Linked DNA regions of Homo sapiens. The protein of the gene in region 1 purifies or fractionates together with the protein of each later gene. This does not show direct contact. Each region holds a gene or a part of one and is shown in the gene's direction. Other genes may lie near its edges.

Region 1 (3,500 bases):
CCCTGGCTAATTTTAATTTTTGTATTTTTAGTAGAGATGGGGTTTCATCATGTTGGCCAGGCTGATCTCAAACTCCTGACCTCAAGTGATCCGCCCACCTCAGCCTCCCAAACTGCTGGAATTACAGGTGTGAGCCACCACTCCCGGCCGATTTCCGCCATTACTTTTGCACCAACCTAATAGCTTAGGAGAGGGAAGAGGCCATCTATAAGTTTTAAGTCAGGCAGTGATGTGACCCAATGTGTGTTTCTTAAAGATTATAGAGGCCATGCAGGAAAGATGGTTTATATATGGTCTGTGGTCGCTTTTGCACTACAATAGCAGAGCTGTTATATTTGCAACAGAGACCATATGGCCCATAAACCTGCAATAGTTCCTATCCGGCCATTCACTAGAAAAGGCGGGCAAGAGAGGAGGATGGGGACCAGGTGCCTGCAGGGAAGATGGAGCAGAACAGTGTTTCATCCCTGGTTTTCAGATAATTTCACAAGGTTGAAAGACATCTTAATGAAAGTGAAAGTACAAGGCACTTACCAGGAGATATTCACACCAGATGCCATGGCTCACACCTGTAATCCCAGCACTTGGGGAGGCCAAGGCAGGAGGATCACTTTCAGCCAGGAGTTTAAGACCAGCCCGGGCAACAAAGTCAGACCTCATCTTTACAAAAAAATATAATAAAAAGTTAGCTAGGCATGGTAGTACATGCCTGTAGTCCCAGCTTCTAAGGAGGCTGAGGTGAGAAGATTGTTTGAGCCCAGGAATTCAAGGCTGCAGCAGGCTATGATTGTGCCACTGCACTCCAGCCTGGGTGACAAAGGGAGACTCTCTCTCTCTCCCTCTCTCTCTCTCTATCTATATGTATACACAATATATTTGCTGTCAAAGGATTATCATCAAGAGTCTATAGAAAATATACACATCCTTGGACTAGGCACGGTGGCTCACGCCTGTAATCCCAGCACTTTGGGAAGCTGAGGCGGGCAGATCACCTGAGGTCAGGAGTTCAAGACCAGCCTGGCCAACATGGCAAACCCCGTCTCTACTAAAAATACAAAAATTAGCTGGTGTGATGGCATGCACCTGTAATCCCAGCTACTTGGGAGGCTGAGGCAGGAGAATCACTTGAACCTGGGGTGGGGGGCGGAGGTTGCAGTGAGCCAAGATCATGCCACTTACACTCCAGCCTGGGCAACTGAGCAAAACTCCGTCTCAAAAAAAAAAAAAAAAAAAAAAGAAAGAAAGAAAGAAAAGAAAAAAGAAAATATACACATCCTTTATATGTAACTGGAAAAGCACAGGCAACCCAGAAAAAAAATGGGTACATGACATGAGCCAGCATTTGGAGAAGAGGAAATACATAAGCATGTGAAGACAGGTACAGATCAGGGGAACACAAATCAAGACCATCGTAAGGTACAATTCTATACCCATGTGATTAGAAAATAATGTAAAAGTCTATGTGAGCCAAGTGCTGGAGAAGATGAGGACTGACAGGATTTCTCACACATTGCAGCCACTTTGAACACCGTGTTGGCAGTAGTTCTGAAAATTGAAACTCACGTGCCCTAAGTCCATCAGTTACCTCCTAGGGTAGTACCCAAGAGAAACGCTTGCAGGTGTTGACCAGGGACATTGACAAGAATGCTCACGATCATCCACAAAAGCAGAAACCTGGCAACAGCAGGAGAGCAGGCAAATAAACAGTTCCCGACCCACCAGCAGGAGAGTGGGTGAATAAACTACATTATAGCCAAGACAGTGAAATATTTTACAGCGATATGATATTAAATTAAAAAAAAACACCAAGTCTCCAACACTACCTATAATATTATACCCTTTAAATAAAATTTTAGGAATACATAGAGACGGAAAATAAAACTATATAAAAAAGGAAACAGGGGAGTAAGGAGCTTGGAATTCAGGTGGTAGTCACCTTGAGGGGGAGGCAAGGGGATGGGGAAGCACAGGTTAGACACAGGTGTGGTCAAGGCCTCGCTCCTATACGGGTGTGCATTCATAGCACTGGTGCTAATTACAGTATTAAAAAGTAATTCGTTAGACATAAAGTAGGGCTATGTATTGACCAATGAAGAGAATGTCTCATGTCCTAAGGATTATGGGTAATTTAATTCAGTCCACCAGGAATCCTCAAAATATGAAAAAAGAGGTACAGTAGCAAGTCCATAGTTACCGGCTGTGGCACCCTACTCCCTTCTTGGAACCTGAAACGTCCCCATTCGACTTCCTTCACTTATAGCTCAAGTCGCTGCTGGAATTGACTGCTGGAATTGATTGCTCTGCTGTGACCCTACTCTGTCTGCCCTGGGTACCCGGCCCCTCCCACGACACCACCACTGGGAGAGGAGGGGAGGGGGCCACGGATGACCATTGTACCTCAGAGGCTTGAGCTGGATGGAATTGTTTCTGTCCAGATCTGTCCCTGGCCTGACCATGGGTGGCTGGAAAAGACTATAAATGGATGGGATTCAGCTTCCTCACACTCAGCACTCCTTGAGGTCGGCAGCATCACTGGCAGTGGGGCTCAAAGTTTATATTTTCCAAGACAGAGAAGTTGAGTTGTGGCCCACCTTGAAAGCCCTAACAGCATCACAGAAGGAGAGGGTTTGGAGAGGACAGTGGCTCAAAGATTTCGGGGGAGAGGAGGGCTGCAGGATGGGGAGGAAAGGAGGGAAATTCAAAGGGGAGGAAGATGAAAGTGAAGTCGGGAGAGATGAAGCTTTGATCTGCATATTACTTACAGTATACAGGCTTCCATCTGTATAATACTTACAATAATATAGTAAGTATTATAATACTTACAATAATATAATAAGCATTATAATACTTACAATAATATAGTTGTTATTATTGTAATATAGTTGTTACTATATTATTGTAAGTATTATAATACTTACAATGATATAATATCATTATAGTAGTATTATAATACTTACTATATTATTTTATTTTATTTATTTATTTTTTTGAGATGGAGTCTCACTCTATTGCCCAGGCTGGAGTGCAGTGGCGTGATCTCGGCTCACTGCAAGCTCCACCTCTCGGGTTCACGCCATCCTCCTGCCTCAGCCTCCTGAGTAGCTGCGACTACAGGCGCCCGCCACCACACCCGGCTAGTTTTTTTTTTGTACTTTTGGTACAGACGGGGTTTCACCATGTTAGCCAGGATGGTCTCGATCTCCTGACCTCGTTATCTCCTGCCTCGGCCTCCCAAAGTGCTGGGATTACAGGCGTGAGCCACCGTGCCCGGCCAATACTTATTATATTATTAATATTTATAAATAATATACATATTTATATTATTTATTTTAATATTTTTCTTTTCTTTTTTTTTTTTTTTTTTTGAGGCAGGGTCTCACACTATTACCTAGGTTGGAGTATGGTGATATGATCTTGACCTCCCAGGCTCAAGTGATCCTCCCACCTCAGCTTCCCTAGTAGCTAGGACTACAAGCACGCACCACCATGCCCAGATATAT
Region 2 (3,336 bases), on another chromosome or scaffold:
CCAACTCTAACTTTTTTACGTTCTCTAATCCTCACAGGTTCTCCAGAACAAAATCCTTGATAGGTGTGCTTCCTCCTTTTTTCTTTTTTCTCAAATGATGGGTTAAAGTTCAAATGTTAGGAAAGGCTGGGTGTGGTGATTCAAGTGTGTAATTCAGCACTGTGAGAGGCTGTGGCGGGAGGATTGCTTGAGCCCAGGAGTTTGAGACCAGGCTGAACAACGTAAGGAGACTGCGTCTCTACACAAAATTTAAAAAACTAGCCAGGCATGGTGGCATGTGCCTGTGGTCCCAGGTACTCAGGAGGTCGAGGTGGGAGGATTGCTTGAGCCCAGGAGAGATCAAGGCTACTACAGTGAGCCGTGTTTACACCACTGCATTCCAGCCTCGGCAACAGAGTGAGACCCTGTCTCAAAAAACAGAAACAGAAACAAATGCTTGGAGAGTGTTGTGTTAGTAACTTATTGTCTTAGTCTATTTTGTGTTGCTATAAAGGAATACCTGAGGCTGGATAATTTATAAAGAAAAGAGGTTTATTTGGGTCACAGTTCTGCAGGCTGTACAAGAAGTATGGTGCTGACATCTGCATCTGGTGACCCCTCAGGAAGCTTCCAGTCATAGCAGAAAGCAAAGAGGGAGCAGATGCGGCAAGAAAGGGAGCAAGAGTGAGGGGAGGGAGGTGGCAGTCTGTTTTTAACAATCAGATCTCGAGGAAGCTAATAGAACAAGAACCCACTCATTACCCCAAGAATGGCACCAAGCCATTCATAAGGGATCCACTCTCATGACCCAAACACATCCCACCAGGCCCCACCTCCAACACTGGGGATCACATTTCAGCATGAGATTTGGAGGGGACAAACCTTCAAACTATTTCACTTACCATTCATAGCAAAAGCAAAGCCCAAATGTGTGTTTGCAAAGCCTTCCAGACACAACAAAAGAGAATTAATTCATAATTCCCGATTTAACTTAGTCGGCCCTGAGATTTTTTTCCCTGAATTGTTATACCTAGATTAAACTATTTTTAAACGTTTGAGTGATTCCTCATTAGTTTTGTTAATCAAAGAGGTAAAGCAACTTAATATTGAGTAGTATTGTGAAGGATTATCATATTTTTGAATAAGTGCATTAACGGTCTTCCTACTGAATATTAATGAAGCATAAATACCTGTTCTTATTGTTTATGTGTAACAGAGCAGCTTGGCTTGGCTGGAGCTAAGAGCCAGACACACCACTGTGTGGAGGTGGGTGATGTCTTCCTGTGCTAAAAGGTGAATAAATAAGCTCCTCACCTCTCGCGGAACACTCGGGAACACATCAACAGGTATTTAGCCACATCTCCTGATTTCATCTTTCAATGGCAAAGACCTTGAATCCTGTCCTTAACTGGGGCTCAGACATTAATCAACAGGTCTGATGAGCATATGGTGGGGACACCAGATTTCATTGGAGTCCCCAAGAGAAAAAAAAGTCACAGTGAGCAAAGAAGGGGTCTGACAGAGTGGGACAAATGCAAGCGCAGTGTAAAGCAGAACCGCCATCTGCCCCCAGTTCCATTCCAGATTAGAGTATGGATGCTTCCAAGGAAAGAGAGTGCTGTGTAGTAAAACTGAACATTGTTTCACCAGGGGTCCAAGCCGCCCTGCTGGGAGGCTTCTCTTCAAGAGTTCTGGGTCCCAGAGTGGAAGGCATTTTCCCATCAACTGGAGAGAGACGAAACATCAGAGACCAGGAGGCTGTGGAGAAAGCAGCTGTCCCAGGTGCCTCAACTATCAGAGAAGGGTCAGCGTCACGTGGCTGCCAGCATCTTTGAGAAAATCACTGGCAATCGGACTTCAGAGCTGCGGGCACAGGTGTGGTTAGAACTGAGATACGACCTGCCCACCTGGGTCAGGCCTAAAGACAAGAAGTCCTGAGTTCTTGCCACTGAGTAGGCCAGGGTCATTTGTCCAGAAAACTTTGTGACTGTCTTTGAGTGACCTAGTCTGGGACCCATTCATTGGTGGGTTCTAAGGTTAGAAGCTCATCCAGGATATTTTCAATATTAAGTCAGTGCATAGCTGCACCACTAACAAATTGGTGCCTGTAGAGTCAGAGTGGGTCAATTCTTAGGACAATGGCGCTGGCACTGTTAGAGGACTGGTGCAGGATAATGAGTGTGGATGAGCAGAAGTCACTGATGGTTACGGGGATACCGGCGGACTTTGAGGAGGCTGAGATTCAGGAGGTCCTTCAGGAGACTTTAAAGTCTCTGGGCAGGTATAGACTGCTTGGCAAGATATTCCGGAAGCAGGAGAATGCCAATGCTGTCTTACTAGAGCTTCTGGAAGATACTGATGTCTCGGCCATTCCCAGTGAGGTCCAGGGAAAGGGGGGTGTCTGGAAGGTGATCTTTAAGACCCCTAATCAGGACACTGAGTTTCTTGAAAGATTGAACCTGTTTCTAGAAAAAGAGGGGCAGACGGTCTCGGGTATGTTTCGAGCCCTGGGGCAGGAGGGCGTGTCTCCAGCCACAGTGCCCTGCATCTCACCAGAATTACTGGCCCATTTGTTGGGACAGGCAATGGCACATGCGCCTCAGCCCCTGCTACCCATGAGATACCGGAAACTGCGAGTATTCTCAGGGAGTGCTGTCCCAGCCCCAGAGGAAGAGTCCTTTGAGGTCTGGTTGGAACAGGCCACGGAGATAGTCAAAGAGTGGCCAGTAACAGAGGCAGAAAAGAAAAGGTGGCTGGCGGAAAGCCTGCGGGGCCCTGCCCTGGACCTCATGCACATAGTGCAGGCAGACAACCCGTCCATCAGTGTAGAAGAGTGTTTGGAGGCCTTTAAGCAAGTGTTTGGGAGCCTAGAGAGCCGCAGGACAGCCCAGGTGAGGTATCTGAAGACCTATCAGGAGGAAGGAGAGAAGGTCTCAGCCTATGTGTTACGGCTAGAAACCCTGCTCCGGAGAGCGGTGGAGAAACGCGCCATCCCTCGGCGTATTGCGGACCAGGTCCGCCTGGAGCAGGTCATGGCTGGGGCCACTCTTAACCAGATGCTGTGGTGCCGGCTTAGGGAGCTGAAGGATCAGGGCCCGCCCCCCAGCTTCCTTGAGCTAATGAAGGTAATACGGGAAGAAGAGGAGGAAGAGGCCTCCTTTGAGAATGAGAGTATCGAAGAGCCAGAGGAACGAGATGGCTATGGCCGCTGGAATCATGAGGGAGACGACTGAAAACCACCTGGGGGCAGGACCCACAGCCAGTGGGCTAAGACCTTTAAAAAATTTTTTTCTTTAATGTATGGGACTGAAATCAAACCATGAAAGCCAATTATTGACCTTCCTTCCTTCCTTCCTT
Region 3 (3,500 bases), on another chromosome or scaffold:
GAACTGATAACCAACTTCACCAGTTGCGAATAGTGATAAACCCAAGATGATTTGCATTTGAATCTGAACTGCAGTTATGTTTCTGTTTAAGGCATGTTTTAGTCAGTTTACTTTTCATTTTTCATATCTTCTGTATCTTAGGGGAGGTTAATGGAATTCTTTGAGGAGTAGTTAGGAAATAGTATGGGACCATAGGAAGCTATGTAAGCTTAGCTCTCATTACTTGATACTTGATCTTTGGAGAAAAGATCTGCTTGACTAGTGACTGCTTTGGATAACTTTTTTAAACTGTGAATTTCAGTTGTCATTTACTTTGGTGGACGAAGAGAAGGAGAGAGTTGGAATTGGGCCTGGGTCCTCAGCACTAGATTGGCAAGACATATTGGATATTTGGAACTCCTCCTTAAATTGATGTTTGTGAATCCACCTGAGTTGCCAGAGCAGACTACTAAAGCTTTACCTGTGAGGTGAGTTGTACCATTTGACAGAAGAAATCTTCAATGAGATTCAGAAAAAAATATTTTTCACTTCGGAAAGTTTATAGGAGCCGGGTGTGGTGGCTCACGCTTGTAATCCCAGCACTTTGGGAGGCCAAGGTGGGCAGATCACCTGAGGTCAGGAGTTCGAGACCAGCCTGGCCAACATGGTGAAACCCCATCTCTACTAAAAATACAAAATTAGCGGGGGCGTCATGGCGCATGCCTGTAGTCCTAGCTACTTGGAAGGATGAAGCAGGAGAATCGCTTGAACCTGGGAGGCAGAGGTTGCAGTGAGCCAGGATCGCGCCATTGCACTCCAGCCTGGGCGACAAGAACGAAACTCTGTCTCAAAAAAAAAAAAAAGTTTATAGAATATAATTTCTCAATGTATGTTCCAAAAAACATTGGAACCTTTTACATACAGAAATAAAAACATGCCCTGGTCAAATACCGTGGGAAACACTTCAGATTATATATCCCTCCTGTACGTTAAAGGATCAGAGGCACCTTTCCATAAAGAAACCTGTTTAACTTTTATTTACCAAATTTTATTTAAGCATAAACCTTTTCTCCCTGTTATGTCACCTGTTACCATCTTTTGGAACACACTTTGAAGAGAGCACTGGATGGAGGAGGGGTCCAGCCACTGGCCTTGGTCCCCAGAGAGCTTCCCGCTGGAGACCTGGCCCTTCCTTATGTGAGCGGTTAACCTGGGGAAACCCAGCTCCCCTCTCTGAGCTGTGCTTTTCTCAGCTCAGGAAATATATTCACATGTCTGTCTAAAATTATTATTCATATTAAGTAGGAAATTTATGAGAAAAAAGAAAAGATGAAAAATGTTTAAGTCCAGGAATAAAGGAAAGGTAGAGGGCTCCAGAGGACAGTGAAATGAAAAAAAAAAAAAGCTAGAAAGTTAAAAGCAAAAGAAATTCAATGGAAGTAAGCAATGTAAGAATTTAAAATGTATTAAGCCAGATGTGGTGGCTCACACCTGTAATCCCAGCACTGTGGGAGGCCAAAGTGGTCAATTGCTTGAGCTCAGGAGTTCAAAACAAGCCTGGGTAAAGGCAAAACCCCATCTCTACAAAAAATAGAAAAATTAGCTGGGTGTGGTGGTGCGTGCCTGTAGTTCTAGCTGCTTGGGAGGCTGAAGTGGGAGGACTGCTTAAGCTTCGGGGGTTGAGGGTACAGTGAGCCAAGATCACGCCACCGCACTGCAGCCTAGGTGACAAAGTGAGACCCTGCTCAAAAAAAAAAAGCATTAAAAGATGAAAATTTTTTAGTTATAAGAAAAAATAAGTGTAATTTAAGATGAAAATAAATAAGCCAAACCAGGTAAAATATTAAAACTGAGTATAAGAGAAAAATAAAGGTAAAAACTTTTAAGTAACTAGCATAGAGAATTAAGTATTAAGAAAAGGATTTAAAAGTGAAAAAGTTAAAAGGAAAACAGAATAAAATAATTGGGGGAATATTTTTACAGAAAATAAGGAAACCAGTCTAAATTAATGAGGTGGTATTTTTTTTTTTCAGTTAGAACAATTAAAGTAGCATCGTCAAGACCACACAGTATATTACAGATTGTATTCTGAGAGCAATGCTTATCTACTGGACTGAGATGAGAGTTTAATTTAGAGATGGAAGGGAGAAAGGAACTAACAGAAATAATAATGATTCAGAGACTCTGAATACAAATAATTCACTTAATTTTGAAGATCAATTGTGAAGAGAATATTTTACAACTATTTCTCAATCCCTGGTAGACGTGGAAGCTATAAATAAAATAAGCCATGCTAAAACTTGAGTTTTTAAATGGTATTACTGGGCTTGAAATTCTTTAATGACTGTAATTAATATTTTTTCAGGGTTAGAGTCTCTTTCGTTGGTGTTAGAAAACTTTCTTGTGCAACTCTTGGTGGCCACATCATGACACGTGTGTCACCTTTTAACCACTATGTCGTGAGATCTGTTGGGGTGTCTTGATACTCCACATCTAAGTTCTGGCGTAACTTTCCCCCGCCTGTCCTTAGTCAGAATTACTTTATATGGCCCTGCACATTTCACTTTTGTTACTGTTTTTTCCTAAGAAAAGTATGTAAGATTTTAGAAGTGGAAGCTACCTAATTACAAATTCTTTTCCCTCCTTGGAATTTAAAAAACAATATTTTGAAAGAGACAAAAAGAAAATAAAGGGTAAGTGATGCAAAGATGACATACATTGAAGTTATTTGTTACTTTAGATAATAAAGTAATGTTTGATTTGTTCTTTTCTTCAAGGTTTTTGTTTACAGATTACAATAGACTGTCCAGTGTAGGTGGAGAAACTTCTCTGGCTGAAATGATTGCAACCCTCTCGGATGCTTGTGAAAGAGAGTTTGGCTTTTTGGCAACCAGGCTTTTTCGAGTATTCAAGACTGAAGATACTCAGGGTAGGATTTCCTTCCTTCCTTCTTTGTGTGTAAGGGATGGGGGTGGGATAGATGTTCAGTTTATTTTCATGAAAACACACCTTGAACATTAGACTCATCAGGTATTGTGACTATAATGTTAGGATTTTCTAGATCCTTGATATGTTAATTATTAAAACCATTTGTTGCATTACAGGTAAAAAGAAATGGAAAAAAACATGTTGTCTCCCATCTTTTGTCATCTTCCTTTTTATCATTGGCTGCATTATATCTGGAATTACTCTTCTGGCTATATTTAGAGTTGACCCAAAGCATCTGACTGTAAATGCTGTCCTCATATCAATCGCATCTGTAGTGGGATTGGCCTTTGTGTTGAACTGTCGTACATGGTGGCAAGTGCTGGACTCGCTCCTGAATTCCCAAAGAAAACGCCTCCATAATGCAGCCTCCAAACTGCACAAATTGAAAAGTGAAGGATTCATGAAAGTAAGCACTCATTGGTTATTAGAAAAAATTGTAATGCGAATATGTTGCCACTGCCATGCTCATTTGGGCTTTAGGAAGTACACTCTCTAAATGTTAAAGTGTTGCATTTATTTTAGTTTAATTTGTT
Region 4 (3,500 bases), on another chromosome or scaffold:
AATCTTTAAATTAGGATTGCAACCCCTGCTTTTTTCTGTTTTCCATTTGCTTGGTAGTTTTCCCTTCATTTCTTTATTTTGAGGCTAAGGGCATCGTTACTTGTGAGATGGGTCTCTTGAAGACAGCATGCCATTGAGTCTTGTTTTTTTATCCAGCTTGCCACTCTGTGACTTTTAAGTGGGGCATTTAGCACATTGACATTCAGGGTTAGTATTGATATGTGTGGATTTGATCCTGTCATTGTATTGTTAGCTGGTTATAATGTTGGCTTGTTTGTGTGGTTGATTTATAGTGACACTGGTCTGTGTATTTTTGTATTAGCTTATAGCAGTATTTCATTTCTGTATTTAGTGCCCCTTTATAAATGCTTATTTAAAAAGACATCACTTGCAGTTGTGATGAAACACCCCAGAAATAAATACAAACAATTGAATTTATTTGCTTTTTAAAAAAATAACTGATTCTCTATATGTAGCCCAAATTACTTCTGCTATTGCTCTACTTCAATGGTGATTTCATACTTCTCATTGTAAAAGCATCATCAATAATTATTCAGTCATTTCTCCTAATAGTGTTTACTGTGTTAATAGTTTCATCTCTCTATGAAGAAATAGTAAATAGTCATACACACACAAATACATACATACCCACATACAGTTATATTTGAGTACTTTTGTTTCTGGGAGAATTGCTGGGGAAAAGGCTGTATATGTTAATTTTAATGGATATGTTTAGACTGCTTTCCAGAAAGGCTCTAATAGAATAATACATTTCCTCCACCAATTTAGAAGTAGCCTTTTCCCTGCCAACAGTACATCTGAATTAGATTTTAAATTTGTACCCATATGATTGGTATAAAATTATATCTTGGTATTACTTAATTTGTATTTCTTTAACCTTTAGAGTGTATGAGCCTCTTTTCTTATTTGTTAGCCACGTGGGCACTCAATTGTGGATTGCCCATTTATGACCTTTTGCCTATATTTTTCTATTGGGTGGTTGTCCATTTATAAAATCTGTTTATAGCAATCTTCTGTTTATACTCTGAATTGGATACATCCTTTCCAAATCTATTATTTGTCTCTTGATTTGTTTACTCTTTTATCTTTTTTGTAACAGCATCTGGGTTTTCATTCTTATTTAGATGTCCCCTTCCTTTAAATAGTACAAGTAGATTTTAAGATTTCTTTTTGCAAAATTTTTATTGTTTTGGCTTTTAAAGTCAACTCTCTTCTCTATCTGGAATTTATTTGTGTATACAGTGTAAGAGTTTTCTTTTAAATGGATACTCAGTTGTGTAAGCATTACTTAATAAATTGTTTTCCCACTAAATTGAAATATAGACAATCCTAGACTTATAATGATTTGACTTACAATTTTTTGACTTTATGATAGTGCAAAAACAATACTGTACTTTGAATTTGGAATCTTTTCCTGGACTAGCAATATGCGGTAGGATACTCCCTCATAATGCTGGGTAACAGCAGCAAACTGCAGCTTCCACTTAGCCATATGATCATGAGGATTAAAACTGATCCTCTACAGTGTACTGTGTCACTATGTTATTTTGCCCAACTATAAGCTAATGTAAATGTTCTGAGTACACTTAAGGTAGACTAGGCTAAGCCATGAAGTTAGTTTTATTAAATGCATTTTCTAATTAAGGATGTTTTCAATATATGATAGGTTTATCAGGATGTAATCCCATAATAAGTCAACAAGCATTGGTATTTACAGATTCTCTATTCTCTTCTAGGAATTTGTCTATTCCTATGCCAGTATATACTGATTTTGTTACATTGGCAGTATAGTACATGCAAATACACACATACACACGTACACATGGGGTGGTGAAAATACTCTTATGAGGCTGAGTTTGACTATAGTAATTAAGAATGGAGTTGCTTCTCAATGTCAAGTCTCCAGTTAAAATGGTGTGTGTGTGTGTGTGTGTGTGTGTGTGTGTGTGTGTGTGTGTTTGAGATAGAATCTCACTCTGTCACCCAGGCTGGAATGCAGTGGTGTGATCTTGGCTAACCCCACCCTCCACCTCCTGGGCTCAAGTGAGTCTCATGCCTCAGCTTCCCAAGTAGTTGGGATTACATGCATGTACCACCACACGCAGCTAATTTTTGCATTTTTAGTAGAAGAAGGGTTTTGCCATTTTGCCCAGGCTGGTCTCGAACTCCTGGCCTCCAGTGATGCACCTGCCTTGGCCTCCCAAAATGCTGGGATTAGAGCCGTGAACCACTGCTCCTAGGCCTAAAATGGGATTTAATAAAGAGCCCAATGGATGGCCATCGATTCATAACTACTCTTGATGTTGCCAGATCATATTTCACCTTTGTAAAATATTGAAAAATAAATGTATACCATTTAGTGAGAGCCAGGTTTTTTTTATAGATGAGAAAGTTGATACTGTTCTAAGTGTTAATTTATTTGCCCAGTATTATTTACTTATTACATGGTAAAGTTAGGGTTACAATATTAAATTGAAGCTCTTTTTATTGTGCCAAAATGAAATATTTTATGAAAAGTACTTTGAAAACAAAGGTGTATGCAAATTGATATGATGGCTATCTCATGATCATCTCCACAATAGTAGCAACTCTGAGTTTTATTTAGAAACAATGCAATGGTTTATGTACAATAAAAGTTATAGCCAATTATTTATAACAGAACAATTATATTTTGATGTTTTCTTTCAGGATATGGTCTATGAATAAAATGTTAGAAATTAATTTTATTCTTTAAAAATCTCAATAATTGGTTCTTTTAAACATTTTTTAGAACAGAAGAAAGTTAAAAAACCAAAACCTGAATTTCCTGTATACACACCTTTAGAAACTACATATATTCAGTCTTATGATCATGGAACTTCCATAGAAGAAATTGAGGAACAAATGGATGATTGGTTGGAAAACAGGAACCGAACACAGAAAAAACAGGTAAATAAGCTTTATAAAACTTGTTTTGAGTAAAACATGTACAGAAAAGCACATAAAATACAGGGTTAGCTCACGATATAGTGCTTTGTTTTATTGCACTTCACAAATACTATTGTTTTGTTTTGTTTGAGACAGAGTCTCGCTCTGTCACCCAGGCTGGAGTGCAGTGGCGCAATCTCAGCTCACTGCAAGCTCTGCTTCCCGGGTTCATGCCATTCGCCTGCCTTAGCTTCCCAAGTAGCTGGGACTACAGGTGCCCACCACCACGCCTGGCTAATTTTTTGTGTTTTTAGTAGAGACAGGGTTTCACCGTGTTAGCCAGGATGGTTTTGATCTTCTGACCTCATGATCTGCCCCCCTCGGCCTCCCAAAGTGCTGGGATTACAGGTGTGAGCCACCGTGCCTGGCCGGTTTTTTTTTTTTTTTTTTTTTTTTTTACAAATTGAGGGTTTGTGGCAGCCCTGAATTGAGCAAGTTTACGGGCACCATTTTTCCAAAAGCATCTCCTTCCTTTGTGTCTCTATATAACATTTTGGTAATTCTTGTGGTAT

Evidence for each region. Proteins that work in one complex are often made in the same cells at the same time.
Region 2: the proteins of EVA1C (region 1) and PNMA2 purify together in Homo sapiens (affinity purification with mass spectrometry; 4 studies listed by BioGRID and IntAct, with this or other methods). This does not show direct contact.
Region 3: the proteins of EVA1C (region 1) and KIDINS220 purify together in Homo sapiens (affinity purification with mass spectrometry; 4 studies listed by BioGRID and IntAct, with this or other methods). This does not show direct contact.
Region 4: the proteins of EVA1C (region 1) and DNAJC1 purify together in Homo sapiens (affinity purification with mass spectrometry; 3 studies listed by BioGRID and IntAct, with this or other methods). This does not show direct contact.

Annotation. Positions count from the first base shown.
Region 1 is NC_000021.9:32,510,206-32,513,705, forward strand, and holds part of EVA1C (protein eva-1 homolog C isoform 1 precursor), read left to right. Parts: intron 1-3,500. UniProt on the Homo sapiens protein: Binds heparin.
Region 2 is NC_000008.11:26,507,537-26,510,872, reverse strand, and holds part of PNMA2 (paraneoplastic antigen Ma2), read left to right. Parts: intron 1-1,195; 5' UTR 1,196-1,325; intron 1,326-1,629; 5' UTR 1,630-2,117; coding exon 2,118-3,212; 3' UTR 3,213-3,336.
Region 3 is NC_000002.12:8,785,614-8,789,113, reverse strand, and holds part of KIDINS220 (kinase D-interacting substrate of 220 kDa), read left to right. Parts: intron 1-301; coding exon 302-467; intron 468-2,756; coding exon 2,757-2,908; intron 2,909-3,083; coding exon 3,084-3,373; intron 3,374-3,500. UniProt on the Homo sapiens protein: Promotes a prolonged MAP-kinase signaling by neurotrophins through activation of a Rap1-dependent mechanism. Provides a docking site for the CRKL-C3G complex, resulting in Rap1-dependent sustained ERK activation.
Region 4 is NC_000010.11:21,881,731-21,885,230, reverse strand, and holds part of DNAJC1 (dnaJ homolog subfamily C member 1 precursor), read left to right. Parts: intron 1-2,791; coding exon 2,792-2,949; intron 2,950-3,500. UniProt on the Homo sapiens protein: May modulate protein synthesis.